Regions from separate parts of the Homo sapiens genome. Here all the other regions are linked to region 1. The links come from fine-mapping of genetic effects on gene expression. A gene starts in region 1. Each other region holds a variant in brackets. All regions are shown on one strand. Distances are from middle to middle.

What was found.
Region 2: its variant is fine-mapped to the expression of RFFL in whole blood (TOPMed, PIP above 0.99).
Region 3: its variant is fine-mapped to the expression of RFFL in whole blood (INTERVAL, PIP above 0.99).
Region 4: its variant is fine-mapped to the expression of RFFL in whole blood (TOPMed, PIP above 0.99).

What each region holds. Positions count from the first base shown.
Region 1 is chr17:35,058,722-35,066,827 of GRCh38, forward strand. It overlaps RFFL (ring finger and FYVE like domain containing E3 ubiquitin protein ligase), which reads right to left and starts at 4,986. Exons shown (of 7, transcript NM_001017368.2): 1 at 4,855-4,986. All of the region lies in intron 5 of RAD51L3-RFFL (RAD51L3-RFFL readthrough), which reads right to left. RefSeq lists enhancers at 4,537-5,736, 4,823-5,618, 5,068-5,167 and a silencer at 4,758-4,827.
Region 2 is chr17:35,037,914-35,046,019 of GRCh38, forward strand. The region is part of intron 1 of RFFL (ring finger and FYVE like domain containing E3 ubiquitin protein ligase); the gene reads right to left. The region is part of intron 5 of RAD51L3-RFFL (RAD51L3-RFFL readthrough); the gene reads right to left. Among named protein-coding and RNA genes, the nearest start is that of RFFL, 22 kb to the right of the region's middle. The variant A/C (reference allele first, on the strand shown) is at 3,124.
Region 3 is chr17:35,111,565-35,119,670 of GRCh38, forward strand. It overlaps RAD51D (RAD51 paralog D), which reads right to left. Exons shown (of 10, transcript NM_002878.4): 1 at 7,968-8,106; 2 at 7,547-7,608; 3 at 6,937-7,055. The coding sequence starts at 8,049. All of the region lies in intron 1 of RAD51L3-RFFL (RAD51L3-RFFL readthrough), which reads right to left. Among named protein-coding and RNA genes, the nearest start is that of RAD51D, 4.2 kb to the right of the region's middle. The variant G/GAA (reference allele first, on the strand shown) is at 4,368.
Region 4 is chr17:34,860,971-34,869,076 of GRCh38, forward strand. All of the region lies in intron 2 of LOC105371742 (a long non-coding RNA gene), which reads right to left. Among named protein-coding and RNA genes, the nearest start is that of CCT6B, 96 kb to the right of the region's middle. The variant G/A (reference allele first, on the strand shown) is at 4,475.

The DNA.
Region 1 (8,106 bases):
GATTGCGCCACTGCACTCCAGCCTGGGTGACAGAGCGAGACTCTGTTTCAAAAAATAAAGTTGGTAGTAATAATCCCAATCACATTGCATGCCCTTTTGCAATGTGATTTTTACCCTCTATCCTTTAGAGGTGAAGTCAATGTCCCCTCCTCTTGTATCTGGGCTATAATTGTGACTTACTCTGACAAAAAGAATGGGGCAAAAGTGATGATGTATGACTGCCAGGCCTAGGTCTTATGAGATCCTGCAGCTTCCATTATGGCCCAGCCACCATGTAAAAGAAGCTCGAGCTAGAATTTTTTTTTTTTTTTTTTTTTGAGACGGTCTCGCTCTGTCACCCAGGTTGGAGTGCAATGGCACAATCTTGGCTCACTGCAACCTCCGCCTCCCATGTTCAAGCAATTCTCCTGCCTCGGCCTCCCAAGTAGGTGGGATTACAGGTGCCCACCACCATACCCAGCTAATTTTTGTATTTTTAGTAGAGACGGGGTTTCACCATGTTGGTCAGGCTGGTCTGGAACTCCCGACCTCAGGTGATCCACTCACCTCGGCCTCCCAAAGTGCTGAGATTACAGGCATGAGCCACTGCGCTCGGCCACTCGATATAGGTTTATAAGTGATGAGAGACCAAGAAAGAGAACTCACAGAGAACCAAGATATCCCAGCCAACAGCTAGCTCCAAAGGTACAGACATGTGCAGCCTTCTTGGATCCTCCAGCTCAATCAGCATCATATGGGACAAAAAAAAATATGTCCTCCTTTCCTGAATTACTAACCCACAAAATCATAGGCAATAAAATGGTTGTCATGTTATGCCACCAAAAGTCTTCGGGTAATTTGTCACACAATAGACAACTGAAACAGTCAGAAATTCAACACTCTCTTGGGCAGTCATTCAAACATTTCCCCACTTTGATGATCAAAAAATTCTTTCTCGTATTCATCAAAATTGCTCCTCCTTCAATTTAAGACCATTTCCTCTTAAATCTTTGAAGTTCATGAAGAATAATTAATAAAAATCCCCCTGGCAAAACTATTCTTGTATTTGAAGATGATAATGAAGTTATCTCTTAGCTTTTCTTTCTCTAGGCTAAAATCTTTCCCCCCTTTTTAAAACTTATAATGATAAGACCTGTTTTTCAACCTTTTAATCATTTTAATTATCCTCTCAAGTATGAGAGACCCAAAATTGAACACCATATGCCAATATCTAACAGAGATTATTTCCTAGCTCTAATGGTTCAGCTTTTTATAATGGAATTTCTCATAGTCCCAAATATGGCATTTTAGCACTCCAAAAGTTGTGAAGTGATCTAAAAAGTTAATTACTTACTATAACTGTAAAAGGTTTTCTGCCCTTAACACTCAGCTTACTCCATTTTGGGATGACCGCTTTCACTCACCAGCCTGGTTTGATACTCCACCAGGGCAGCAGGTTTTCACAACTTCCAGATATTTGAAGTATAAAAGAAAAACCTGAGAGGTTGGAGTACGCACACCATTAATTTCAATCAAGGTCTCTAACCACAACCAGGGCCTTCCCATAGGTCAGGCAGGTTCAGAGTACCTCCTCCTCCTACCTTGATGATAAAGTGGCCTTGTAAAAGGCAAGACCGTTAGCACTTGCCTATCGAGCAAAGGCACCATTTCTGTGGAACCTGATAGAGTATATTTAACTACTATATTAAGAGACAAACCAGCTGCTTAATGCAGTGTAAGAACCATGTTTTCTCTCTGAGTCTTACCTAAATGTATATATGCTTTGGTATCAGACTAGCTTTATAATCACTGGTAAAATAGGGATAATAAATAAAGCCTACCCAACGCAAATAAAACCATATGAGGGAAATAATTTTGTAAAACACCATAAAAATGTCGTGATATTGCGGGACTAGATCTCAGCAAACCCTTTAAATCTTCAAATTAACTTTGAATGATTACTTGATGGTGGCAGGTAACACATACAAAATAAGCAGCCATGGGCTCATGTTCATCAAATAGGAATGAAAAACCATGCCATCTAACAAAAAAGCTTCTAATATTGCAAAGAATAACGGTTTGAGCCCGGAGATCCACGTCAGCCACTCTCTCTGATGGTGCCAAGCTCTAGTCCAGGGACACCAAGTTCAGTCAAAGAACTCAACAGTCTAGTGGAAGAGACAGACAGTGCTGTCTGTCAGAAAAGACAGAGAAGTCAGAGAAGATGCATATATGAACTAAGTGTCCTGAGGGATGAGTATCTTGCCAGTTAGAGAAGGGAGAGTCCATTGGGAAAAGGCAGAGTCCTAAAAGACATGGTATATCCATGGAATGTTAACATGAGAAGTTCAGTGAAGCTGGAGAGGAGAGAAATGGCCAGGGGAGAGGGAGATGAGATGGTTAACAGCAACATGTAGGAAAGAATCCAACTGTGAAAGCTTTTAGAAGTCAAGCTAAGTGGAAAACAGGGAACAAATGGCACCTTAAATGAAAAGATTAGATGTGGACTTTAAAAAGATAACTTGGGCAACAATATGGAGAAGATAGGAGCAAGGAAAGACTTATGGAGGAGTGGCCATTTGATAAGGGTCTGAACTAGGAGTTACAAACTCAAATTCCTAGAGGCAATGCAGGTAAAATGCTAAGTCTTCAGTGTGTAAGATGTCAGAAAATGGTGGTATCCGTAATCTTTGAAGAGTACAGGCCTTCTCTCTGATGGTGCCTAAAAGTATTCACACACAAAATTTTAAGCCCTTAGGCTGACTGATTGATTTTTGGGATGGAGTCTTCTTCTGTGCCTAGGCTGGAGTTCAGTGGCACAATCTCAGCTCATTGAAACCTCCACCTCCTGGGTGCAAGCAATTCTCTTTTCTCAGCCTGCTGGGTAGCTGGTACCACAGGCACTGGCCACCATGCGTGGCGTGCCTTTTTTTTTTTTTTTAAATACAGACAGGGTTTCACCATGTTGGCCAGGATGGTCTCAAACTCTTTTTTTTTTTTGATATGGAGTCTCACTGTTGCTCAGGCTGGAGTGCAGTGGTGTGATCCTCGCTCACTGCAACCTCCACCTCCTGGGTTCAAGTGATTCTCCTGCTTCAGCATCCTGAGTAACTGGGATTATAGGCACGTGCCACCACGCCCAGCTAATTTTTTGTTTTTAGTAGAGATGGGGTTTCACCATGTTAGCCAGGCTGGTCTCAAACTCCTGACCTCAGGTGATCTGCCCACCTCGGCCTCCCAAAGTGCTGGGATTACAGGCGTGAGCCACCGTGCCCAGCCTGACTTTAAACGTCCAGTTTTGACCTCTGGTAAATTAAGGCAATGACAGTGGGAATGAAGAAAAGCCACACATCAAACAGTACTCCAACAAAATCAACAGGGTTTAGCACATTTAAAGATGTGAGCATAAAAAGAATGAACAAGGCCGGGCGCGGTGGCTCACACCTGTAAACCCAGCACTTTGGGAGGCCAAGGCAGGTGGACCATGAGGTCAAGAGATCGAGACCATCCTCGCCAACATGGTGAAACACTGTCTCTACTAAAAATACAAAAATTAGCTGGGCGTGGTGGCACGTACCTGTAGTCCCAGCAACTCAGGAGGCTAAGGCAGGAGAATCGCTTGAACCAGGAAGGCAGAGGTTGCAGTGAGCTAAGATCACACCACTGCACTGCAGCCTGGGTGACAGAGCAAGATTCCTCTCAGAAGAAAAAAAAAAGAGTTGATGAGAGGATCAGAGTTGAGAAAGTACAGTACAGGCTCTTGCTCATTCTACCCTTACTGAGAACCTACTATGTGCAACGTACCATGGATACAATTCTAGCAAAGCAGACCCTGATTCTCAATACATACTATGATTGGAGTAAATACCAGGTTCTCCTGAGTACTCAACCCTGGTAAGTAAGAAGAGGCTTCATGGAAGAGGTGACTTCTAGGCTGAAACCAGTTGGCCAGATTAAGCTTGGGGAAGGTGTGTAAAAGAACGCTTACATATGCTAAGGTCTGAGGTGAAAGAGAACGTGGGCAATTTGTTGGAATTATAAGGAGCAGAAACGTAATTTGGAGGGTGACGACTACCTAGAGATATCATAGTCTGATTAGGTGAAGGACTCAAAAGTTTGGCGATGAAAAGCAGGAGGGAGATAGAGTAGTAGCCTAGTAGAATTAGAGATGAGGGAGGTTCTTCCTATTAATTCAGAAAGGAATATGGGAACAAACTCACTGATAAGACAGTGTTCTCCACAACTCAATATTTAGTTATTAGGAAGGCAACCAAATGCCTTCACTTCTTTTCCTTTAACAATGGCTTAGTTTGACTAAAGTGTTTCTCACAAGATACACACAAAAAAACAAAATACAAGAGCAAATGACGGATAAAGCTGTAAACCTAACGTTTTACTTTTCTAAGATTTATATAATCAGTGATTTAATTGGACCTAACTCCACATCCAGAACTCAAATGAAAGAAAACTTCTGGCCGGGGGCCGTGGCTCATGCCTATAATTCCAGCACTTTGGGAGGCTGAGGAGGGTGGATCACCTGAGCTTGGGAGTTCGAAACCAGACTGACCAACACAGCAAAACCCTGTCTCTACTAAAAATACAAAATTAGCCGGGCATGGTGGCGCACATCTATAATCCCAGCTACTTGGGAGGCTGAGGCAGGAGAATCACTTGAACCCGGGAGGTGAAGGTTGCAGTGAGCCGAGATCACACCATTGCACTCCAGCTTGGGCAACAAGAGTGAAACTCCGTCTCAAAAAAAAAAAAAAAAAAAAAAAAAAAAAAAACCTGACTCACTTCTGAAGACAGGATTTTCCCAGTTTCTAATGCAGCTTCATCTAGCTAATGAAACTTAAGAAAACAGTTTGAGGTTACCTGATTTTGCCAGTTTCAAAACATTGCCACGACAGAAAGCAAGCTGTCTCTAGTTCCTGTGGCTGAGGTCGCTGGAGCCATGTTCAGATGAGATCATCTCAGGAACCAAGAGCAGCGGCTTTCATGTGAAGTGAATGGTGCCGCCTGGGGATGTATCTTTGGTAAGCAAGATTGCAACACAGCAGGGAGTTTACCCAGGGCAGTGCTGACTCACGCTGGGCAAAATTTGTACTTCCCAAACAACTCAGCCTGAACCAACCGCAGTCAACTGCAACCTAGGAAAGAAGAGGCAGCTCACTGATTGTTTTAAATCAAGTGCTGATTACTGGGGGCAGGTAAACCTCATTCCCCCACTACTGGTAACTTGGCCACCTCCAGAGCCCTTACCCAAAAAGTTCCAGTGGCCAGTTTCTAAAATTTCATCTGAGAACAGGCTGGGGCTGGGGCCAGCAAGATTACTGAACATAGCAGGTTCACAGCTCTGAAGATTTCCCCAGGAGGCTGATAAATAAGTCACTTTGCATTTACAAATTAGAACATCTGGGTCAGTGGACTCAGGGAACTTGCCCAGTCATCATTAGCCAGTCAAATCATTAGGGTGAATTTTTGTCAGTTCTAACCAGGCTCATTGTTCTTTTTTCCCACTAGGCCTCCTCTGACCTCTCTATTTCTTCAGACAACTCAAGTTCTCTCATTAAGATAGATGCACTGGAATTTTTTTTTTTTAATCAGCTGCCACATTCTCTATGCTAAAGCCAAATCATTTACCATCACACCTACTGGATGCATAGGGAATACAGAAGACTATGAAAATCACCTTAACACTTGCTCTGAAAAGAGACATCCCTAAATTTATGTCAATTCTCATTTATTAGCCTGCTTATTTAAAAAATCAATCTAGAATGACTGGCTCATCAACAGCTATTAATTACTGAATTTGCCCTGACAGGCTAGAATTGACATTGGTGTTATACAAAAAAAAAAAAAAAAGATCAAGTCCTTGCTTTTTGTGTGCTTTAATTTGACAAGAGAGAAACTAAAGTTCCTATTAGATCCTTCTGTTTCCTGCTTAAAATGTATGACAGTTCCCCAAGGCCATCAGCTATTTCTTAGCAGGGCATTTGAGGCCTCTGCACCCAGCTTCGTTCATCCTTTAAGGTAGGTCTCACATGGCATGAACTCTGGATGTAGCTGCCAACTCAGCTTGTCATTCAATAATGTTAGGTTAATTAAAATGTACGTGCAGACAGAATTTGAGTTTAAAAACTATACTACTTAATTTTCTATTCAAGGGGCTAGTTTTAAAAAGTTATTTATCCAACTCACTTAATTCTCCTTAATTACATTATTCCAGTAGGATAGCCACGCTGAGCTTTGATAAGGTATTATAAAATGTTCCCTGTTTTATTTCCTCCCCTTCAGTGTTTTCCTTTCAGAAAATGGCTTTGTTTAAAGAAGTTTCCCTATAGTACATGTTAATTAGTCCTTTCTGAATGATAAACACATCTTTATAGCAGCTGACAACCATTATCTCTTCAACCACACTTTAAAAAAAATTTCTGTAGTTGATGATAAGTTACAAATTCTAGTATGAAACAACTCTCAAGGTACAGACAAATATGGAACCTCCTTCAGAAAAAAAAAAAATGATTAGAAAAGCTCCTGACCTGTTCTGTATTTGCGAACTTTAAATAAGAGGGCCGGGCACAGCGGTTCACGCCTATAATTGCAGCACTTTGGAAGGCCGAGGTGGGCGGATCACCTGAGGTCGGGAGTTCAAGACTAGCCTAACCAACATGGAGAAACCCCCATCTCTACTAAAAATACAAAATTAGCCAGGTGTGGTGGCACATGCCTGTAATCCCAGCTACTCGGGAGGCTGAGGCAGGAGAATCGCTTGAACCCGGGAGGCAGAGGTTGCAGTCAGCCAAGATTGTGCCATTGCACTCCAGCCTGGGCAACAACAGAGCAAAACTTCGTCTCAAAAAAAAAAAAAAAAAAAGAAAGAGAAAATCCAGACAGTACTATGCCCAGGAGACAGATACGAACTATATAAAGAGCAGCCTGAAGGCCAAAGGCATGGAACTCCTAAGTTGACTAAGAGAAACACCATTGAGCAAGTGAACAGAGCTGCTGCAGCTTATCATTCCCCTCTTTGGGACTCTGATACAGTTTTAACCAACTGCCCCAAATTATAGCCACACTCCATCCTAGTTCTTCCTTTTAAAGTGGAAAGGTTGAGGATTACATTTTAGAGCTTAAAAAGGTACTCGTTTGAACTAGTGGTTTCAGGCACTTGAGGATTTATGAGGTTACATGAAAATTATGAGAATATGAGGCTATGGGAGAAATAATAACTGTGGCTTTCTGACTAAGTTCTTTCAATACATTATTTTAAAATTAGCCAGGCATGGTGGCATACACCTCTAACCCCAGCTACTCTAGAGGCTGGGGCAGGAGAATCACTTGAACCCAGGAGACAGAGGTTGCAGAGCCGAGATTGCGCCACTGCAATCCAGCCCAGGCGACAGAAGGAGACTCCATCTCAAAACAAAAAACAACAAAAACAGAAAATACGTTATTTTAAAACTCAAGTAACTTAACACCCAAAACTATTTATGCTTTTTTTAATAGGGTGGTCTCAACAGATATTTAATGAGTGTGCATATGTGTATGTGCCCATTGTTTCATTTGAACAGACATATGTGATGTCATTGACATCCCAGATTTACTTTCTTTTCTGCAATAGATCTTGACATTATAAACAATAAGCAGGTTTCAAAAGAGAAATTAAAATATCCATTTCTCAGGATTCTGTAGTCTTCCAAATCCACAGAAAATTACCAAATACATACAGAAGATCTGGGAGGATGCACACAGCAGGGAGAGCACTGTAATGGGAATAAAGATCAAATAGCTATGTTTAGCTTTATCCAAATTACCCCCCAAAAATCATGAATTTTTTTACAACAAGCATATATTCAAATATGACTTGGTAGTTTAAAATTCAGTTAAAATTTTAAAGTTTGTATCACTTACAAACTGCTTTACTCTCTCTTCACACTCTTTCCTCTCAACATCTCCCTTTTATCTACTTCCCTACCCCCAGCATCCTAAATGATACTGCACATTTCTTGTTTTTAACAAAATTAATCTTACTTGTGTCCACATCCTTTTTCTAACTGAGAAGTCGGTGAATGGATAAATGCACATTTCCAGGAATCAGTGCCTGTCTCACCTTGTTGATAATTA
Region 2 (8,106 bases), 21 kb before region 1:
AATTATGACCACAAAGTGTTACCACCACTGGAATAGCTAAAATGAAAAAGAGATACTAGCAAATGTTGATAAGGATAAAGAGCAACTGGAGCAGACGGGCATGGTGGCTCACACCTGTAATCCCAGCACTTTGGGAGGCTAAGTCGGACGGATCACCTGAGGTCAGAAGTTCGAGACCAGCCTGGACAACATGGTGAAACCCCGTCTCTACTAAAAATACAAAAAATTAGCCAGGCGTGGTGGCACATGCCTATAATCCCAGCTACTCAGGAGGCTGAGGCAGAAGAATCGCTTGAACCTGGGAGGCAGAGGTTGCAGTGAACCCAGATCGCACCATTGCATTCCTGCCTGGATGACAGAGCAAAACTGTCTCAAAAAAAAAAAAAAAAAAAAGGAAAAAAGAGCAACTGGAACTCTAATATTGCTGGTGGAAGTGTAAATTACTCCAATTTGGAAATTTTGTGTGTGTGTGCGCGCGCGTGCATATACACGCGCACCCACATCTCTTTCCATGGCTTTGCAATTCTGCTTCCAGGCATATACCCAACAGAAATACATTCACCCAAACAGTATACAGGAATATCCATGGAAGCCCTACTGTAATAGCCTCAAGCTGGAAACAACTGAAGTGTCCATCAACGGTAGAATTATGATATGTTCACAGAACAATGAGAAAAAACAAACAACTGATACATGCAATAGTACAGATGAATCTTATGTTGAGCAAAAGCAGGAGGCATAAATGAATACATGGGAAATGATTCGTTTTACATAAAATTCAAAAACAGGCAAACTATGGTGTTCAAAATCAGGATAGTGGTCATCCTGTGAGGTAGGATTACAGATGGAAGGCAGCCCAAGGGGCTTCTGGTAACATTGTTTCTTACTCTGAATGCTGATTATGTAGATATGTTGACTTTGTAAAAATTCATCGAACTGTACACTTATAATTTATATACTTCTCTAGTTACATTTGAATTAAAAGTTTATATGAGTGTTGTGTTTTGTTTTGAGATAGGGTGTCTCACTCTGTTGCTCAGGCTGGAGTGCAGTGTTGCGACCATGGCTCACTGTAACCTGGACCTCCCAGGCTTACGTGATCCTCCTGCCACAGCATGCCGAGTAGCTGGGACTACAGGCGCGCACCACCACACCTAATTTTTTGTATTTTTTTGTCTAGATGGGGTTTCATCAAGTTGCCCAGGCTGATCTCGAACTCCTGGGCTCAAGCAATCCACCCGCCTCAGCCTCCCAAAGTGCTGGGATTACAGACATGGGCCCCTGCACCCAGCCCATATGACAGATTTTTTTCTTTTCTTTTTTTTGAGACGCAGTCTCGCTCTGTCGCCAGGCTGGAGTGCAGTGGCGCAACCTCGGCTCACTGCAACCTCCGCCTGCTGGGTTCAAGCGATTCTCACGCCTCAGCCTCCCGAGTAGCTGGGATTACAGGCACGTGCCATCACACCCAGCTAATTTTTGTATTTTTAGTAGAGACGGCGTTTCACCATGTTGGGCAGGATGGTCTTGATCTCCTAACGTCATGATCCGCCCACCTCGGCCTCCCAAAGTGCTGGGCTTATAGGCATGAGCCACAACGCCCAGCCAATGACAGATTTTTTAAAGCACCTAGTCAAATATTTGTAATTTGTAAAAAATAACAAAAAAATAAAAAATAAAACCCCATTTTGACCCCACATTCTCCCCCTCCCCAGTAAAGCTCTTTTTCTGTGATCTCCTCTAAATCAAATTTCTCCAAATATTTGACTCCACTTTTTTTTTTTGAAACGGAATTTCACTCTTGTTGCCCAGGCTGGAGTGCAATGGCACGATCTCAGTTCACTGCAACCTCTGCCTCCCGGGTTCAAGCAATTCTCCTGCCTCAGCCTCCCGAGTATCTGGGATTACAGGCATACAACTCCATGCCCAGCTAATTTTGTATTTTTAGTAGAGACGGCTTCTCCATGTCGGTCAGACTGGTCTCAAACACCCAACCACAGGTGATCTGCCCACCTCGGCCTCCCAAAGTGCTGGGATTACAGGCATGAGCCACCGCATCTGGCCGACTCCACTTTCTTAACCTCTAATTCACTCTTAAACCTTCTCCAATCTAGCTTGAGCCAACCACCATTCCTAATCTCTTCAAGGTCACCAAGGAATTCCAAGTGGCCAGATCTAATTGACACTTCTCTATCCTCATCTTAATCTCTCAGCAATGCTGGACACAAGCGACTCTCCCCCTCTAAACATCTCTTAGCTTCTAGCACTCTGCCCCCGTGGCTTTCCTCCTACCTCAAAGCCTTTTTGCTGCTTCTTACCCCTCCCTCTGTTCTTAAATGTTGTGAGTGTCCAGGCTGTCTTAGGCCTCCCTCTCCAACCACACCTCAGGTTGCTTTAAATACCTTTCTTGGCCGGGTGTGGTGGCTCACACCTGTAATCCCAGCACTTTGGGAGGCCAAGGCGGGCAGATCACTTGAGGTCGGGAGTTCAAGACCAGCCTGGCCAACATGGTGAAACCCCGTCTCTACTAAAAATATAAAAAATTAGCCAGGCATGGTGGCAGGCACCTATAGTCCCAGCCACTTGGGAGGCTGAGGTAGGAGAATCACTTGAACCTGGAAGGCAGAGGTTGCAGTGAGCTGAGATCATGCCACTGCACTCCAACCTGGGCGACAGAGCGAGACTCTCTCTCAAAAAAAAAAAAAGTAAAAAAAAAATAAAAAATACTTTTCTTAAATCAAAGATGCATAAATTCCTACCTTCATCTCCCCTGCTCCTGCTGGTGGGTTAAAACATCATCTTTCATATATTAATCACATTTCCCTCCTTAGGCCCTTTAGATTTGTTGTTTGTTCCTTCTGCCTGGATTGGTCTCCCTAGAACTTCCTATGCTTAGCTCCTTCTTGTCATCCAAACATCAGCTTTAATGTCTTTTTTTTTTTTTTTTTTTTTTTGGTGTGTGTGTGTGTGTGTGTGTGTGTGTGAGGGAGAGAGAGATAGGGTCTCTCTCCAAGCTGGAGTGCAGTGGCTTGATCATAGCTCACTGTAATCTCGAACTCCTGGGCTCTAAGGATCCTCCTGCGTCAGGCTCCCAAAGCTCTGGGATTACAGGTGTGAGCTACCACG[A/C]CCAGCCTTTTAATGTCATTTTCTAATTTCACCATAACATTTGGTATTAGCTGATATTATTTGCTTATTTATTAACTGCTTTCCCTAACTAGAATAGAAACCCCATGAGGGCAGGGACTTTGTGCTCTACCGAATTTCCAGAGTCTAGAATGGCTTCTTGGGTAAAAGAACAGCCTCCTAACGGGTTTCCTAGCTTTAATTCTTGCCTCTATCCACCTATTTCTCCACAAGGCATCACCCACTGCCCTCCTCCCCTCAACACACACACTTAAAGCTCTTTAATGTTGCTTGTTCCTAGAAGTGATCTTCCTTGGATGGATTATCCAAGGCATCCACCCAATGAAAGAAATCATGTTAACTCTTTGTACATAAAAATGTTTAAAAACTCTTCAAAAAAAAGTTCTTTAATGGACTCCTATTGCATTTTAGAATAAAAATAATCACTTCTTACATGGTTAAAGACCCTGACCACTTCTCCAATTCATGCCGTGCTACTTTTCTCACTCGTTAACTTCAAGCCATAGTGGGCTGGTGTGTGAAGAACCGAAAGGTAGTGTGACCTTTCGGTTCTTCACACCGAGCTGGTGTGTGTAAATGGGGGAGGACTCCTCATGTCGGTGATACTTGAGATGAGACCTGAAGGCTGAGAAAGGATTTTTTTTACCGCATCCAGCTAAAAATTATAATTCTAAAATGATGGCTGGGCATGGTGGCTCACTCCTACAATCCCAGCACTCTGGGAGGCCAAGGCAGGCGGATCAGTTGAGGTCAGGAGTTCAAGACCAGCCTAGACAACATGGTGAAACCCCGTCTCTACTAAAAACACAAAAATTAGTGGTGTGGTGGCACATGCCTGTAGTCCCAGCTACTCAGGAGGCTAAGGGAGAAGTATCGCTTGAACCCGGGAGGCAGAGGTTGCAGTGAGCCAAGATCACACCACTGCACTCCAGCCTGGGCCACAGAGCGAGACTCCATCTCAAAAAAATAAATAAAATAAAATGCCAATGACCTACATGTTTCATAGGCATTACTGGCTGGAAAGCCCAAGGTCTCTCTCCTCTCTCTGGTCACCCAAAGCTTGGGTTTCTTACCACCCAACGCTCTTGGTGGGACAGGCCCTGACACAGCTGATTTATACCAACAGCATAATTAAAAAATCACAATGTCCTGAGAACTCACCTGAAATTTAAAATCATCTCTTAACTTGGAAGGCTGCTTACTTTTAAAAGTAAGTTAGTCTGGCAAGCAACTTGAACTCCTTTGAAACTGTTTACTGGAATTTTCCAGCAAACCTGCCTGAGGTACCCACCCTGACTTGTAAAGATTTAAAATGCTGGTGACAACACAATGAGCATAAAATAGGACAACTGTTGCATTTGTAAGTAAGCAGCCTGCTGAGTAAACCATACTACTAACTGGTCTCATATGCTGGGGGTGGGACAATGAAGCATGTTCTCTGTGATACTATTTCTGAGATATTTATTTTAGAATAAATAATTCGGTGGCCGGGCGCAGTGGCTCACACCTGTAATCCCAGCACTTTGGGAGGCCAAGGCAGGCGGATCACCTGAGCGCCCAGGAGTTCGAGACCAGCCCAGCCAACATGGTGAAACCCCATCTCTGCTAAAAATACAAAAAATTAGCTGGGCGTAGTGGCATGCACCTGTAGTCCCAGCTACTCAGGAGGCTAAGGCAGGATAATTGCTTGAACCCAGGAGGCAGAGGTTGCAGTGAGCTGAGATCACATCACTGCACTCCAGCCTGGCGACAGAATGAGACTCCATCTCAAAAAAAAAAAAAAAAAAAAAGAAAAGAAAAAAGAATTCAGAATACCTAAGTCATAGAGAAGACATGTATATGGTAGAACTTTAGAATCCAAGGCCTGAATTAGGATAAAGAGCCCTGCTGAAGTGGTGCATGGGCTGGACATAAACAAGGAATATTTCACAGGCCAGAACTCAGGGGAGGAAAACATTTCCAAAGCTTTTAATACTAATAGACATTTTCTATCCTCCAAGGCAGTCCTTTGGATATGGGTAACAGATAAATGCATATTTCCTAGGTAAGAATTTTATTTTAGGTCTAAAGTTTAAGAAGACAGAACAGTTGGAGAGAAAGGTGGGGGGAAAAAAAGCTGTTCCCAAGTATGTTTTACTTTGGCTTTAAAATCAGTCAGACCTGACCTTAAATCCTGGCTCTAACACTGAATAAATGAATGAGCTTGAGTAAGCTGCCACTAGGAGCTTCAGAGTAACAGGAATACATTCCCTACACCTCACAGGCTGGACATAGAGGTGGTGCTCAGTATAAAGGGGGATCATAACTTCACTGGACTTTTCAATCTTACATCAAGAGCAGAGGGCAGTGTTAGACATTCAGTAAATAGCCGTCATTATAATAAGGCATGGGCTCATGAGGATTAAATGTTTGCCTCTCTCCAAACCAGCTTCCAGAGCCTCCTTTCACACAGAGATGTCAGTAACATCAAAGACACAAGGACTAGAGCCTCTTCTCTCCTCCAGTCCCCAAGTTATACTTTAATGTAAAGGATCAAAACTTTAGACATGACATAATCTTCTGTGCTATTATTTCAGATGGCAGACACGGGGAAAATTGGGGGAGTTATTCAGAACTTGGGGTTCCTGAAGTCCTTTCTCAGAAGATTACAAAGTAAAAACATTACAAAACACCTAAAATGTGCCAAGTTAGTTGTTATGTTTGCATCTGTTGTCTTATTTAACACAATAATCCTACAAAAATCAGAATTAAAATGGTCTGATTTTTGTAGGATTCAATAAAAAGTACCTTAAGCACCTTGTAAAAAGTATAATACATAGAAAAACCATTCCTGGGACTACAGAACTTTAATTTATACATCCCATAAGTCATCTGCATTTCTAGTTTCTACAAGTTCAGGGTACCAGTGATACAGACCCCCAACCTTCTAAAGATAAAGCCTTTAACTGATATTTAAGGTGTATTTCAGTTTCTCTTCTTACTTTTGCTCCAGTTGAGATTTTTCTGACTTAATTGTCTCAACTGCAACTAATGCTCTATTTCATTGATTCATTTATTGAGACAAGTCTCTGTCACCCAGCCTGGAGTGCATTGGCACCATCATAGCAAACTGTAGCCTTGAGCGATCGTCCCACCTCAGCATCCTGAGTAGCTAGAACTGCAAATACCCACCACCTTGCCCAGCTAATTTTTTATTTTTATTTTTTTTGTAGAGACAGGGTCTATGTTACCCAGACTGGTCTTTGAACTCCTAGCCTCAAGCAATCCTACCTGGGCCTCCCAAAGTGCTGGGATTACAGGCAATGAGCCAGCGCACCTGGTCTACCCTCCTTTTAATAAGTGTTGTCAGCCAGGCGCGGCAGGCTCACGCCTGTAATCCCAGTGAAACCTTGTCTCTACTAAAAATACAAAAATTAGCCAGGCATGGTGACAGGTGCCTGTAATCCCAGCTGCACGGAGGCTGAGGCAGGAGAATCGCTTATCTGGGAGGTGGAGGTTGCAGTGACTCGACACTGCACCACTGCAGTCCAGCCTGGGAGACAGAGCGAGACTCCATCTCAAAAAAAATAAAGTAAGTGTTGTCACTGGGTAACTAGTAAATAATAATGAAAGCAAATCCTTAGTGCTCAGGGCCTTACTCCTTACTCTATCCTATTCTTTCAGTTCTTCAAACACCAAGGTTATTTTGGCTTTAGGAATCTCCCTCCCTCAAGCTATTCAGCTATTCTCTCAGCCTGGAGCACTGTTGCCACCTCACCTCCCTTACATATCATTTATTTCCTCAGGGAAACCTTTCCTGATCCTGTCTGTGCTCTCATAACATTTTTTTTTTTTTGAGACAGGGTCTCACTCTGTCACCCAGGCTGGAGTACAGTGGTGCGATCACAGCTCACTGCAGCCTCGATCTCCCAGGCTCAAGTGATCCTCCCACCTCAACTTCCCAAAGGATTGGAATTACAGGTGTGAGCCACCATGCCTGGCCTCATAGAATCTTATACACTTCCTTATAACCATAATTGATTTATCAGACTATTTAGCATGAATCTCCTGTACCTCTGGAGAACGTAAGAGGAACAACAACAGGCAAGGTCCTTGAATCTCATAATGATTACATTCTGGGGGAAAGAGCATTCTAGCAGTACTGTATCTAATCAACTGGCTAACAGTTTGTATAATTCTTTTTTTTTTCTTTTTTTGAGACAGAGTCTCACTCTGTCGTCCAGGCTAGAGTGCAGTAGCATGATCTCAGATCACTGCAACCTCCACCTCCCAGGTTCAAGCAATTCTCATGCTTCAGCCTCCTGAGTAGCTGGGATTACAGGCACGTGCCACCATGCCTGGCTAATTTTTTGTATTTTTAGTAGAGATGGGGTTTTACTATGTTGGCCAGGCTGGTCTTGAACTCCTGACCTCAAGTGATTTGCCCGCCTCAGCCTCCCAAAGTTCTAGGATTACAGGCATGAGCCACCATGCCCGGCCTATATAATTCTTTTTAAAGTATTTTTCTTCCATATTTAGGGTGTGGAAAGTGAAACAGGAAACAAGAGTAGGTCTATTTCACAGCTTTATTCTCAGCCTTAATGCCAGGTAATCAACACATATTTGTTGAATTATTAACTAATGATAACAGCAATAGAGCGCTTTTTAAAAAAAAAGGACAGAAATTCATGCTTAAAATTGCACAATTGGCGAGGCACAGTGGCTCACGCCTGTAATCGCAGCACTTTGGGAGGCTGAAGCCGGCGGATCACCTGAGGTCAGGAGTTTGAGACCAGCCTGGCCAACATGGCAAAACCCCATCTGTACTACAAATAAAAAAATTAGCTGGGCGTGGTGGTGTATATGCCCATAGTCCCAGCTACTCGGGAGGCTGAGGCAGGAGTATCGCTTGAACCTGGGAGGCGGAGGTTGCGGTGAGCCAAGATTGCACACTGCACTCCACCCTGGCTGACAGAGTGAGACTCT
Region 3 (8,106 bases), 53 kb after region 1:
CAAAAAAAAAAAAATTAGTTGTGTATACTTGTGGAGGTCTATTTCTGGGTTATCTATTCTGTTCCACTGATCTGTGTCCATCTGTCCCTTGGTCAATACCACACTAGGCTTAATTATGTAGCTATATAGCAAGTCTTAACCCTGGGTAGACTGATTCCTCCAGCTATCCTTTTTCCAAATTGTTTTAGCTAATCTAGGTAAAACTGGTCTTCCCGTAATTATTAGAATAAGCTTGTCTATGTCTATAGAAAAAAAAAACTTGCTGGGATTTTAATAGGAACTGCGTTAAATTACAGATCAACTTGGGGACAATTGAAATCTTCATTATGTTCAGTCTCCCAATCCATGAACAAAGTACATGTCATCCATTTATCCGAGTCATCTTTGATCTCTTTCATCAACAATTTAAAAATTTTCAGCATACAGATTCTACACATGCTTTGTTAGACTTATACCCAAGTATTTCATTTCTCTGAAACAACTATAAATGGCATTGTGTTTTTGTTTGTTTGTTTATTTGCTTGTTTTTTTGAGACGGAGTCTCGCTCTGTCGCCCAGGCTGGAGTGCAGTGGCGCAATCTTGGCTCACTGCAAGCTCTGCCTCCCAGGTTCACGTCATTCTCGTGCCTCAGCCTCCCCAGCAGCTGGGACTACAGGCACACACTGCCACGCCCAGCTAATTTTTGTATTTTCAGTAGAGATGGGGTTTCTCTGTGTTAGCCAGGATGGTCTCGATCTCCTGACCTTGTGATCTGCCCACCTCAGCCTCCCAAAGTGCTGGGATTACAGGCGTGAACCACCACGCCCAGCCATTTTGTTTGTTTTGTTTTTTTGAGACAGTTTCACTCTGTCACCCAGGTTGAAGTGCAGTGGCACAATATCCGCTCACTGTAACCTGCATCTCCCAGATTCAAGTGATTCTCCCGTCTCAGCCTCCCAAGTGGCTGGGATTACAACCACCCACCACCACGCCCAGCTAATTTTTGTATTTCTAGTAAAGACCAGGTTTCATCATATTGGCCAGGCTGGTCTCGAACTCCTGACCTCAGGTGATCCACTTGCCTCGACCTTCCAAAGTGCTGGGATTACAGGCATGAGCCACTGCGGCCGGCCAATAAATGGTAGTGTTTTTTATTTTAGTTTTGACATGTTCACTGTGAGTATAGAGAAATGCAGTTGATTTGTATGTGTTGGTCTTGTATCCTCACTAGTCCTAGGAGTTTGTAATTATTTGTTATTTGCTTGTTTTTGTTTGTCTTGCTCATCTAGCTGAGAGCACCATGGGGCAAGGACTGGGTCCGATCCCTGTCGCATCCCCAGCACTAGCACAGTGCCTGAAACACAGGAGGCACCCAATAATCATTCCAGAAAAATGAGTAACAGAAAGGTGCTATCACTTTTATTTCGCTTCTGTATCATCAACACTGGCTGTGAAAGACTTGGGATAAACCTCATGACATGCCAATTCCTAAACCAGGTTCTCTCCCTCAACCACATGAAACAGGTCACCACCTACCCTCCATGCCCTGCCCTATCTCTAGGCTGAAGTTTCTTCTATGCCACGGCCTGTACCAATGCCTGATCACATGCGTACCTTTCCTAGCCCTACAATCACCTTCCTAGGTTCCAGTCCTTGAGATGGTTCTTGATGACCTCCCATGACCTCTCTGTATATGCCGAACAGCACTTTAGTAAGCATCCCATCCATTTTTTTTTTCTTTTTGAGACGGAGTCTCGCTCTGTCACCAGGCTGGAGTGCAGTGGTGTGCTCTCGGCTCACTGCAACCTCCGCCTCTCGGGTTCAAACAATTCTCCTGCCTCAGCCTCCCGAGTAGCTGGGATTATAGGCACCCACCACCACGCCTGGCTAATTTTTGTATTTTTAGTAGAGATGGGGTTTCGCCATGTTGGCCAGGCTGGTCTCAAACTCCTGACCTCAGGTGACCCACTCGCCTTGGCCTCCCAAAGTGCTGGGATTATAGGCATGAGCCACCGTGCCTGGCCCCCAACCATTTTAATTCCAGGGACTCCCCATGATTATACCCACAGGTTCCTGCCAGTCAAAACACTCTGGTTACCACTCTAGCCCTGTGGCTTCTTGAGATAATTGTGCTCACCCCATCTCTGTTTAATAAGTATCCAGCCTCTACCACTCCTGATTCCATTCTTCCCATTGAGATCAGAGGAACCCCAGTGTGGTCCCCAGACCAGGTGCATCAGCAACCTTTAAGGACTAGCTAGAAATGCAAATTCACAGCTCCGCTCCCCAAGACCTACTGAATCAGAAACTCTGGGAATGCAGCCCACACTTGAAACTTGAGTTTCAACAAGGCCTCCAAGTGATTTTGAAGCCTGCTCAAGTTTCAGAACCATTAGACTAGAGTAGTTAGTCTCAATCCTGCCTGCACATTAAAATCAGGGGAGTTGGCTGGACGCAGTGGCTCTCGCCTGTAATCCTAGCACTTTGGGAGGCCGAGGCGGGTGGATCACGAGGTCAGGAGATCGAGACCATCCCGGCTAACACGGTGAAACTCCGTCTCTACTAAAAATACAAAAAATTAGCTGGGCGTGGTGGCGGGCGCCTGTAGTCCCAGCTACTTGGGAGGCTGAAGCAGGAGAATGGCATGAACCCGGGAGGTGGAGCTTGCAGTGAGCCGAGATCGCGCCACTGCACCCCAGCCTGGGCGACAGAGCAAGATTCCGTCTCAAAAAAATAAAATTAATTAATTAAATAAAATAAAATCAGGGGAGTTTTTTAAAAAATGCCTATGTCAGCAGTACCCAAAGTTGTCTGCACATTGGATTCACCTGGGAGCTTCAAAAAAATACTGATGCCTGGCCAGGCATGGTGGCTCATACCTGTCATCTCAACACTTTGGGAGACAGAGGTAGGATTGCTTGAGCCCAGGAATTTGAGACCAGCCTTGGCAACACAGCAAGACCCCTGTCTCTACAAAAAAAAAAAATTTTTTTTAATTAGCCAGGCATGGTGGTGAGCACCTGTAGTCCCAGCTACTTGGGAGGCTGAGGCAGGGAGACTGCCTGAGTCCAGGAGTTCAAGGCTGCAGTGAACTATGATTGTGCACCACTGCACTCCTGCCTGGGCAACAGAGCAAGACCCTGTCTCTAAAAAACAAATTAAAAAATTAAAAAATACTGATGCCTGTGTCCCACTCACAGTGAATGAGATTAATTGGTCTGGGGGAGACTTGGACTTCGTAATGTTTAAAAGAGTCCTCAGGTGACTCCAATGGGCACACAAGTTTGGGAACCACTGACCTAGACTAATTAAATTAGAATATATAGAGTTGGGACCAGAGCATGAATATCTCAAGTTTCCCAGATGATTCTAACGTGCAGCTGGGGTTGAAGCACTGGTGTTGACTCTAGTCAAGAATCAACCACATCCTTGGCTGTGGAGATCAGTCTGTATAAGGTATTCCCAAATCCACCTTCCAGCCAACTTCTCACCTGAGTTTCCATTCCGTGCCTCTCCGACTGCCCAGAGAACCTTCCTACCAATATGTCCCCATCACCTTTAACTCCGCATGTCAACAGGGAGAGACCCCTGTCTTGCCCCATGAAGCAGAAGTACACCTGGGTTTTACCACTGCCTAGAATACAGGTGATTTCTGGGACTTATCCTCTGCCTTTCCCTCTGAACTGCCTTTTAGCCATTCTTTCAGTCATCCATTCACACACCACTTCAATGCCTCATATTTCCTGACAGTCTTATTCTAAAATGAGGGGACTGTGGGATGAACAGACCTAGCTCTGGCCTATAAGGAATAATCAATCTCCCTCATCAACATAGCTTTTCCCAAAGTACGTTACATGCTATAACACCCTGTAAGGAATCATTGCACCTCAGCACTAAAGGTTCTGAGGCGGCCTACAACAGAGAAACCTGTTTAATTTGGATTAGTCAGGCATTTCTCAAACTTCTGACTACAGAACTCCCCTCCTCCCAAGTTTTAAAGTTACACCATTAACTGTCCACAGCACACGGTAAGAAAGGCTAGAGACTGGGCATGGTAGCTCACGCCTGTAATCCCAGCACTTTGGAAGGCCAAGGCGGGCGGATCACGAGGTCAGAAGATCGAGACCATCCTGGCCAACATGGCGAAAGTCCATCTCTACTAAAAATACAAAAAATTAGCTGGGCGTTGATGGCACGCACCTGTAGTCCCAGCTACTCGGGAGGCTGAGTCAGGAGAATCACTTGAACCCTGGAGGCGGAGGTTGCAGTGAGCCGAGATCACGCCACTGCACTCCAGCCTGGCAACAGAGTGAAACTCCGTCAAAAAAAAGAAAGAAAGAAGGAAAGAAGGAAAGGAAGGAAGGAAGGAAGGAAGGAAGGAAGGAAG[G/GAA]AAGGAAGAAAGAAAAGGAAGAAAGGAAAGAAAGAAAGAAAGAAAGAAAGAAAGAAAGAAAGAAAGAAAGAAAGAAAGAAAGGCTAGAAACCTGGTGAGTCAGCTTTGATTCTTCACAATACATTCCAAACTCCGACAAAAAAAAAAAAGAAAGAAAGAAAGAAAGGCTAGAAACCTGGTGAGTCAGCTTTGATTCTTCACAATACATTCCTCCTGGTAGTAGGTCTTGTCACAGTTCCTCTTCAACATGTCTCCCACTGTTCTAGACTGGACTCACATACCCCAGGCCAGCACTGCCAGGGCCCTGCTTGGCCTCTGCCACCCTTCCACCCTGCACACCTCTACCCCACTGTCTATAACCCTGCTTTCACAATGGCCTCCCGCCTCCAGGGAGACAGCCGGGCAGATGAGTTAAGAGCCGCGTTCTTAGACTTAGGAGTGTGACAAGCATGAACTCAAATAACTGGTCTGCCGTTTGCTAACTGCACAATCTTGAACAAGTCATTTAACCTGAGTCCCAATTTCTTCACCTATAGAATGATGATTTATTTTTATTTTATTTTATTTTATTTTATTTTTTTGAGATGGAGTCTTGCCCTGTTGCCCAGGCTGGAGTGCAGTGGTGCGATCTCCGCTCACTGCAAGCTCCGCTTCCCGGGTTCATGCTATTCTCCTGCCTCAGCCTTCCGAGTAGCTGGGACTACAGGCGCCCGCCACCACGCCCAGCTAATATTTTGTACTTTTAGTAGAGACGGGGTTTTACCGTGTTAGCCAGGACAGTCTCGATTTCCTGACCTCATGATCCGCCCACCTCAGCCTCCCAAAGTGCTGTGATCACAGGCGTGAGCCACTGCGCCCGGCCTAGAATGATGATTTAAACAGTAACATGCTCATTGGTGGTTGTGACGAATAAATGAAATAATGTACCGTGAAGTGCTGACCGCAGTGCCTCGTTCATCGAAAGCATTCAGCGAAAGTCCATCTGTTCCTCCATGCCCAAGTCCTGCCTTCTTCAGAGCATTCCTGACCCCACTCCACGATCTCCCTGCGGGGACCTGAGGCAGCTGCAGTCCTCCCAGGTTCCCACTTGAGTGCGCCCTCCATGTCTGTTGGATTTATAAACTCCCTAAGCCCAAGGCCAATCGGCTTCCTGTTCACCACTCCCTCCTTACCGTTGCCTCCCTCGGTGCTTACAGCTCTCTTGTATTCACTTGATTTTCCCCTACACCCAACTAGAGGCCTTAAGGGCAGGGGCCTTGCCTCATTCGTGTATGTATCATCTGCACATACCAAGCACCCAGCAGGCCCTTAGCCAGTGCTTGATGGATCACAGACTCAGACCCCCAACCAGGGAAAGCAAGCACCACACTGCATGAACCCTGCCAAGAGAATGTGTTAAGGAAACAGAAAGGGCCACACCAATCCAAAGACCTTTATGGTGGCAGTTATTCATCAATTTCTGAACAAACAGACCAGGAAAAAGGTCAAGACTCACTTGGCCAGCAAACGTCTGTCGTCTTTGCAACTCTTCCCCAACCCACCAAACAACGTGGCGGGACATAACTGCTCCTTTTTTTTGAGAGAGTCTCGCTCTGCCACCAAGGCTGGAGTGCAGTGGTGCGATCTTGGCCTACTGCAACCTCCACCTCCCACATTCAAGCAATTCTCCTGCTGCAGCCTCCCAAGTAGCTGGGACTACAGGCGCCCGCCACCACGCCCGACTAATTTTTGTATGTTTAGTAGAGACGGGGTTTCATCATTTTGGGCGGGCAAGCAGGCCAGGCAGGTCTCAAACTCCCGGCCTCCAGTGATCTGCCGCCTCAGCCTCCCAAAGTGCTGGGATTACAGGTATGAGCACTGCATCTGGACCGCAACTCCTTCTTTCTCTGAACTCTCCTGTTCTCTACTGCTGCAGATGTGGTGAATAAGTTCTGGGCCACATACTCCCGCGCTTGAGCCTCACCTTTGCCACTTGCTCCTCTTAGGCTAAACTCAAGTAGGGTTAATTATCTCTAACTGGTAGAGTCACTGAAGAGATTACCTAGAACATACAGGTAATGCCTGCACATAGTAGGCACTCAGTAAATGTTCTCTCTTGCCATATCCTTAAGTAAAATAAGAAGTAGGGCCAGAGAAGATGGTGAAAATAATGAGATACTGACAGCTTGTGTTATAGGACAATGCTTCTCAACCAGAGGCAATTGTGCCTCCCAGGGGACATTTAGCCATGTCAGGAGACATTTTTGATGGTTACAACTGGAGCAGGGCTGGTGCTACTGGCATCTAGTGGGCAGAGGCCAGAGATGCTGCTAAACATCCTACACTGCACAGGACAGCCTCCACCCCCCAACAAATAATTACCTGTCCCTAAATATCAATAGTGCCAAGGCTGAGATACCCCATAACCCTGTTATAGGATAAGAATTCAGATGTCCTGACCCCTTTCCTTCCCATCCATTATTGGTTAAAAAAAAAACCCCTCCCGTCTAGACTCAAGCATCAAAAGCAGAGCTGAGAGGAGGCCCCATCCTCCTGCCTCTCTCCTTCTTCCCCAAGTACACACACAAACCTGCCAATGCCAGTGGACAGGATGGCAGTGGAGGTCTTCAGTTCCTCGTAGAGATCAGCGCCATTCACGGGGAAAGCCGAGAACTGAGCCAGCAGCACCCGCCTCAGGGCAACCAGGGCCTGCCAAAGGGCCCCAGACTGCTCAGCAACAAATTGCCCGTAGAAGCTGGCATCCCAGGGTGTCATTCACCCTACTTCTCAATATCTGAGAACCCTCTGCTCCCTTTGGCTTGGGATGGACTTTTGTTATTGTTGTTGTTTCAGACAGGGTCTCACTCTGTCGCCCAGATTGGAGTGCAGTAGCACGATCTCGGCTCACTGCAACCTCTGCCTCCCGGGCTCAAATGATTCTCCTTCCTCAGCCTCCCGAGTAGCTGGGATTGTAGGCGTGGGCCACCACACCCAGCTAATTTTTGTATTTTTAGTAGGGACAGGGTTTCACCATGTTGGCCTGGATGGTCTCGAACTCCTGACTTCTGACTCCAAGTGACCCACCCGCCTCGGCCTCCCAAAGTGCTGGGATTACAGGCATGAGCCACCGCGCCCAGCTGGCTTGGGATGGACTTTTTAAAAAGACACTCAGGTTTGGAATGTGGAGATCAGGAGCTCACCTTGTAAGACAAGCCACATTTCTGAGCTACCTCTTCCAGGTCTGCAGAAACCAGGTCCACCACTGAAAACAAAACACGTATAGCGGATTGGCAGAGAGGACTGGGGCCTCCCACACTTGGTTTTTCCTCATCTGTCAAATGGGGTGTCAATTCTACCCCCCGGCAGGCCGTCTCAGGAGGCCAGTGTGAAATAACAAAGCTGCAGGAGCCGGCGCGGTGCCCTGCACACAGTAGGAATCTCTACCCTGTTTTAGAGCTTGGCTCCCCACGCCCACCCTTCCTGAGCCTCTCCAGAAGCGCGGCCCTCTAGGAATGGAGGGGAAGCGCCCTGCAGGTATGCCAGGGCAGTGCGCCAGCCCTCGGGGCCTGCCCAGGTTGTGCGAGGCCCGCGCGGCTCCCTGGCACGCGCACACCCGGTCACCTGTCTTGATCCTGTGGCTCCTGAGAAGCTGGATCATCTCCTCGGTAAGGCCAGGGCACAGTCCGACCCTGAGCACGCCCATGTTCCCCGCAGGCCGGAACAGCCCCAGGGGGACTGCACGTCACGTGGGCATTCGCGG
Region 4 (8,106 bases), 200 kb before region 1:
CCTCACCAGACTGCTGTTGTCACCTGCCTGGAATATGCTGTGGTCTCCTAGATGAGACCTGTCTTGGTCTTGCCCCATGTGGTACATCCTCCAGCTCCAAATAGGAAACACATTCCACTTTAGCCCACACAGCAAAGAATAGACTGGGAAAGTGCCCCCTCCACCAGGAAAGACACCTTACTGAAGCCTGCAGGTGCATCCCTGACCACACAAAGGCAGAGACCACCAGGCCTAGATTCTCTCTGAATCCTCACCCTGGGCCCAAGGAGTGTCTCATGCACAGTAAGTACTCAGTGACTCTTGCTGCATTTGAAATAAAACTCCCCAGGTACACTTTGTACTGAGGGGAGTGCTTCTTCCCAAGGAGCACCCTGCTCTATGGCCCCACCTTGCAGGGACAAGGGTGCTGAGTGTTAGGTGCTGGCCCAATCCCTTCAGCGTCTGAGCCTGCCCCTGTGAGCTCCCAGGGAGTGGAGAACCCTCACAACGCAGAGGACCTGAGTGGTGGGCAGTCTTATCTAGAAGAACTGGTGGAGGACAGGGACAATGGCAGGAGTGGCAAGAGCACTGTGCTGGGGGTTGGGAGGCCAGGGTGCTTGTCCCAGCCAAGCCACTTGCCCACAGTGTGAAGACTCAAGGGGTCTGTTTGCAATGAGCACTTAGGGATGAGGAGCATGTCCCACATGAAGAGCACTGCACATGGGATGGAGGGAAGAGTTTTGACCCCACAGTCCAATTCTGCAGTTAACTTAGAAGACGTGGCCACTTGGTCATGGTCCCCTCTACTTACACCTTCTTCATTAGGAATAATTACACTGTAATAATTCTAAGAAAATCCATATAGTATAATAACACTCAAGGCATCCTATATGACATGAAGGTCCCCTCCTCCAAGAAGCCTTCCCCGATATCCCCTCTCTACCACTTCTAATGAAGAATGGACCATGCCCTCCTCAGTAGCTTGCTCTGTCCACTGTATGCTGCCACCCCAGCCCCCAGTGTGTGGTTGCCTCCCCTAGTTAACTGTGAGATCCCTGGAGACTGAGTCTTAATCTTGTCTTATCATGTGCACATGCAGGCATATGCATGCATACACACACACTACCCAGAGCTGAGCCCGGAGCGTGACTCAGAATCAGGCTCACTACATGCTGGTCAAATGCATGTCTAAGTGATTGAATTAATGAATTGATTAATAAGTGGTGTCATAATCCTGACTCGAGAAATCCTTTGGACCAGCACCTACACAAGGTTGCTGAACAAAAGCAGATAAACTCAGCTAAGTAAAGTCCTCAGCCCAGCGACTGACCCACTTGTTTCTCTCTTCCCCCTTAGTGGCCTGATGAGCACAGCTACTTCCTACCATCTTGATCCAAAGACCCTGTACAGAGCTGATGCTCCCCTAAGCCCACGAAAGAAGAGACTTTGCAGGGTTGGGATGAATCCCTAGAAGAAGAGGCACATCCTCCTTCCCCCAAAACTCTTGAGACAAAGGAAATCTCCACTCACCCTCCTGTAGTTACCTACACCAGGGGTCCCCAAGCCCCAGGCCACAGACCAGTACCAGTCTGTTGCCTGTTAGGAACCAGGTCGCACACCAGGAGGTGAGCTGCTGGCAAGAGAGCAAAGAGTTTTTATCAACAGCCGCTCCACATGGCTCGAATTACTGCCTGAGCTCCGCCTCTTGTCAGATGAGCGGTGGCATTAGATTCTCATAGGAGTGTGGACCCTGTTGTGAACTGTGCATGTGAGGGATCTAGGTTGCAGTCTCCTTATGAGAATCTAATGCCTGATGATCTGTCACTGTCTCCCATCACCCCCAGAGGGGACCATCTAGTTGCAGGAAAACAAGTGCAGGACTCCCACTGATTCTACACTATGGTGAGTTGTGTAATTATTTCATTATCTATTACAATGTAATAATAATAGAAATAAAGTGCACAATAAATGTAATGGGCTCGAATCATCCTAAAACCATCCCCACCCCCACCCCAGTCCATGGAAAAATTATCTTCCTCAAAACCAGTCTCTGGTGCCAAAGAGGTTAGGGACTGCTTCTCTATACTCTCCCTCCCTGCCCGGCACCCAGGTCAGGAAATGGACCAGGTGAACCCCATCAGCAACATTATTCAACTCCATGATTGAGAAATTCTCTCAGGTCCTGAGTGAGCTCCACAACTCGCCATTCTTAGAGGGCAGGGTGTATGTGAACCCATTTCTCAGAAGGTGAAGCTGAAGCTCCAAGAGGGACAATAGCTCTCCAAAAGCCACTCAGCAGGTGGATGGGAGAGTGGGAACCTGGGTTCCCTAACACAGCCAGATAAGATGGGAGCATCTACGCCCAAATGTGAACAGGGATTTGCCTCCTGCAGCCAGAGGTGCTGCCCAACCCCTGCCTCCCACTCCAGATTTGAAGCAAAGAGCAATAAACAGTTTGTGGCATTTCTTGCCTGTCGGAGTGTATTTCTAGCTTACAGAGGATACATGGGTTTCTGAATAATTAAGTACGATGCTTGGCATCTAGGGCCCAAGACTCCAAAAACACAAAGAACTTGAGGCAGAAAATTCCCATCAGCAACCAAGTCAGAGAGAGTCCGTGACATTTGCTCCTCCCATCTGAGGACCAGGCAGACCTGGGCTCCACTTGGGAGCAAGAACCAGTCTGGAAGGGCCTTCCAAGATGATCTGGGCCCAGCACCTCATTTCTAAACAAGAGAACAGAGGGCCAGAGAGGAGATTCACCAAGGGTCACTGAGTCTCAAGGGTGAGTCTGAAGCCCTGGAACAATGGCGAAGGTTCCAGACATTGACCCAAATACCAAGGTGGATCCACTCTACTTCTTTCCAGCAGCGTTGCCATGGGCAAGTCACTTTATTCCCCTGAATCTCAGCTTTTCCCTTCTGTCAAATGGGAACAATAAAACCTTACACATGTTAATAACCCCATCTATTCTACAGATGCGGGGGGGAAAAGGATGATGAATGTGAAAGTTATTGGTGAATTTTAGGTAGATTTCCAAGGTGAGAAGCTAGGTCCTCTTCCTCTGGGGCCCACTATCATGCTCTCTTTTCTCTCTCCTCTGCCTTCCCCTCCTCTTCTTCCTTCTCATCTTCCTCTCACCCCTGCTGCCTCCAAGAAAGGACTGAAGGACACGTTCAAGAAGCAGCAGAAAAACAAGGTTAAATTAGAATTAAACAAAGTGCCAACTTTAGAGGAGCAACAGAACTCCACAGAGAGGCGCAGCTGGTAACACAGCCTACTGGGGAAAAACACAGGATTAAAGGTCAACAGACTTAAAGTTGGTCGCATCTCAGGACAGCGAATAAACATCATCACTAGCATTGACTCACTGCTAACTATGTCCCAGCACCATGCTGAGCTCCTTACATACTTTGTCACATTCAGTACTTACAACAATCCTATGAAATAAGGTAAAGTCTTCATTTTATAGAATGAGAAAACTGAGGCTGAGAGAGGTTAAGTAACTTAGCAAAGTCACACAGCTAGTAAGTGGTGGAGCCAGGATTCAAACCAAGAGGTCTGCCTCCAAGCCTGCACGCTGAAGCCCTCTACCTGCCTGTCTCCTTAGAGCATTACAGGAGGTCTCTCTGGACCTCAGGGTCTCCATGCAGCTCAGAGACAGCAGAGGGGCCTGTGTGAGTATCCAAAGGTATAATTTACTAGAGATGGTTAAAAAAAACAAAACAAAAAAAAAGAAAGAACCAAAAAATTCCTCCCATCTCTGCCCCTGTTGAGATACAGAAAAGGGCAAGGAAAGAAGAGGAAGAAATAAGTTGAGTAACTTTTGTTTTAGCCTTTCAGCTGCATAAATCATCCCGGGGCCAGAGAACTGAAATAATTCAGAGGGAAGATGAGCACGCATTTATCACGCCCTGCACATACTAAGTGTCCCCTATTGAAGTCCAGTCTCACCACCGGAGCTAGGATACACACTGTCCCACCACCTTCACCTTTGCTCTGGGAATAAGGCCTCCAGTCCAGAGGGCTTCTTTTTCTTCCCCAGACCCAAAACTCGCTGATAGACCCCCCAGAAAAATGGTAGTTAGATAGGAATTTCAGGGGCTAAGGCAGGACTCCCCTCGACTAGGGACTCAAGTCACAAAGGCCACCAGACCAGCTTCCCACAGCCTCTATTCCCACCCTCCATCCTCCCTCTGCGATCACTCCACTCTGGAGGTGGGGCTGCCTGGAAAGACCTCAGGAAGACAGAGAATCCAGCTCTCACTCAGAGGAGCCAGGTGGGAATGGCCTTAGCAATGTCCTCCTCCAACAACCCCATTTTACACAGAGACACTGAGCCCCAAAGCATGCAAAGCCTATCAGAGGTCCCAGGGCTCATTGGGAGCAAAGCCCAGAGGCTCCTGATCGAGTGCTCTCCTCTTTCACTAACCATCCCCCAGCCTCCAGTCATGGCTATGTCATTGTCCACCAGACCCTGCACTGTGTATGTGAG[G/A]CTGAGGTGCTACAGGGCCCACCAGATCCCTGCGGCTCCTCCACCCTGGGGCTGAACTGGGAAGGTGGAGAGAGGCAGCCTGGTGCAAAGGAACCCATCCAGAGTTTCCACGCCAGGCAGGCCTGGCTTCAAATCCCAGCTTGGCCATTGTATTCATTGTCCATTGCTGTGTAATCATTATTCCCAAAATTTAGCAGCTTAAAACAATACATCTATTATCTCACAGTGTCTGAGGGTCAAGAATTTGGGTGCAACTTAGCTGAGTCCTCTGCAAGCCATGGTTTCTCACAAGGCTGCAATCAAGGGGTTGGCCCAAGGTCTGCAATCTTATTTAATGGTTTGTGTAGGGAAGAATCTACTTCCAAGCTCATTCACATAGCTGTTGGCAGGATTCCGTTTCTTGCAGGCCGTCGCAATGAGGGCCTCCGTTCCTGACCGCATGGGCCTCCCCCTCATGGCAGCTTGCTTCATCAAAGCATGCAAGCCAAGAGGGCAATAAAGAGCCTGCTAGCAACACTGATGTCACAATCTTCTGTAACCTAATCAGAAAAGGGACATCCTACCACCTTTGCGACACTGTTGGTTAGAATCAAGTCACTAGGTCCAGCCCACACTCAGAGACAGGGAATTACTCAAGGGCATAGATACCAAGGGGCAGGAATTCTGGGGTTATTGGGGGACTATCTTATAAGTTTGCCACCCACAGCCATTTCCAGCTTTGTATCCCTGGCCACCTTCCTTAACCTCACTGAGTGTCCGTTTTTCCCTCTGTAACCATGGGGATGAAGACACTGTGTTCAGCATCAGGCATGTAAAAGGTGCTCAAGAAATGGTGGTTATTATGCTTCCAAGTGGTATCAGCAGCCTAGGAGGCTAGGATAGATGTGCTGGGCTTTCGAGCAGCCAGACACACACAGGGAGACAGAAGAACCTACACACTGTGCAGGGACGGAGGATGAGGTTCATGGGCCTCCCCAGTCTAGGGGGAGAAAGATTTGCTTAAGAAGCAGAGAATCATTTGCTTAGCGGGATTCCAGAGGCAGTGTCATAGGTAGCATTTGGGGAATAGAATAAGTGGGGAACTTGAAGATGCTGGCCCAGGAACCCTGAAAGTGAGCCACACAGAGCTCCCCTATACATCACAACTGCAGGAAAAGGCCTGGGACTGCCCCCCTCAGGAACAGGGATTTGAAGTCTCAAGGAGCTGGTCTCCTTCCACAGGGATCAGCTGCTGCGGAGCTGAGTCCAGCACACGCTAGCTGGCTGATCGTGCAGGACATTCCTAGGTCAGATGTTTGCAAGCCAGGTTTGCACCAAGCACTAGATGCTCACACCACCAGCCAGTGCTTGGTGAAAGATGGTACCTATGGAGAGCAAGAACTTTCCTGGAAAGCTCTGCTTCACCCTGTTAAAACAATGATCTGATTAAAACCATAGCCAGATGCTGTAGGCCATGATCCATGGAGAAGGAAAAGAACAGAATCCTTGAGTATCCAAGCTAGTATGACCTTAGAGGACTGCAGATGGGATGTCGAGGATCTGCGAGCCTCCTGAAATTATGTACAAAATTACATGTGTGTGGCTGCACATTTTCCAGAGGGAGAAAACCTGTCCACCACATACAAACAGATTAGGAACAAAAATCCAATTTGGCCCTCCCATTTTACAGAGGAAGAGACTGAGGCCCAGGGAGTACCAAGGACTCTCCCAGGCCATACAGTTGCCTTTCAAGGGAGCTAGAGAGAGAACCCGGGCCTCCAGACTGCAGGCCAGCCCATTCCACCTTTCTTGGGCAGACTTGAAGTCTACCCTTCACTAATAAAGCATTCTCCTAATAAAGCAGCCATGTCTCTGAACAATGTTTAATTATTTTGCAAGAGAATGACTGTAATGGGCCACATGAAACTTAAAGGATTTTTAATAAAATCTCACATGCTCTGAGGGCTCCAGCTCCCTCCATGTGCCCCCCTTTGTTATTTCTCCTGATCCCATGAAGATATAGCATTTGTCACTGTTTCATTAGGAGCCACGGTGCCCCATGTTATTTATGAGTTTGCTATTTATTGAAAATTGTATTTTTGAGGGGGATAAAGGGGGAGCTGAAGTTTATCACAAAGAAGCCTTGGCAAGAAAATTAGTGACATTTCAAAGTATCCAAATCTCTGCTCCTGTAAAGACTGAATGAGTTCACAGCCACCAGATTTCAAAGCATTACTGGAAGTCCTGTTCCAGGTGGGGGGCTGACTAGGGGCTCTTTGATGCCTTGATTGTCCTTAGGAAAAGATGATGGTTTTATAATCTCCTCCTAGATCTGGCCTGCATCCCTTTTTCTTTAAAAAAAAACAAAGTCTGTTTTTATTCAAAGTCATATATGCACAAGGTTAAAAACAGTTTCCTGTTAAAATACTTCTTACTCCCTGTTCTGTCCCCCCTAGACAGCCACATCTAACTTTTTTAAATGTCTTTTCTTATATTTACCTCCATTTTTCTAAATAATATGCTTCTACTGATATTTCTTGATTCATCAATTTTAGACACAATCTATTGACTTACTGCTAGAATAGACAAGGATTTATCTCACTCACACCACCTCCATCCCTCCTGCCATATCTCTATTTTTAGTTCTTCTATTGGTTACTTTTGTGATCTTCCATCCTCTACAGATGCACTTTTTAAAGAGAATTTGTACATTGTACAAAAAGAATATTTCTACCCCCATCCTTCCCTTCACCTCACCTCTCCCACTTCTACCTCCTAATGCTGTCTGTCATCTACACTTCTACTTTTACACTGTAAAAACTGATAATATCTACATCTACTCTGTAACCACAATAGTTCTTTCAGATTGATTCCAAGAGTTGAAAATCACTGAAAAGTATTTCTATTATTGTGCCTAGGTAAAGACTGTTCACTACAGAGCCAAGTAGTGTACTATAATCACAGTTTCATTTCAGATACAAATGTGTATGTGTGTGTTTATACGTTTTGAGTTGTCTTTCTTTATTCTTTAGTCCTAATTGTCTTTGTCACATTTCCAATTTTTTAAAAGTCTTTATAAAGCCCATTCTACCGAGTTCCCCTTTTATTTAGGGACCACCACCACCCCTGCCTGCTGGAGCACTCAGTTCTCTTGCTTCAATCTGGACTGGTTGTTCTTTATGCTTGTGCACAGCTCTTCTGATTTCTATGTATAGCTTTTTGCATTCCCAGTCTTCCCCTATTTTGTTTACTCCCTTACTTATTAAAAGACATCCTCAAGTTGCTTCCTTAAAAAGGATTTATGGGAGACAGTCTATGGGTTCTTGCAATTTGAATAATGGGTTGGTGGGATGTAGAAAGCTTAGGTTGAAAATCATTTCTTTCAGAATGTGAAAGTGTCTGATGTTGTTGATGACAGTCTGGTGCAGGTCTGATTCTTGTTCCTCTGAAAGTGACCTGGCTTCCTTCTTGGAAATCTTTAGAATATTCTCTTCTCCTGTGGCTCTTTTGACTCACAATGATGTGTGAATTGGTGTGGGCTCTTTTCATTTATTGTGTTGGATGCTTAAGGGGCCCTTTATTTCTTATTTTAAGCTGGAACTTACAGGTAGTTTTGTAGCTATTGTAACAAATTTTGTAACATATTATAAACT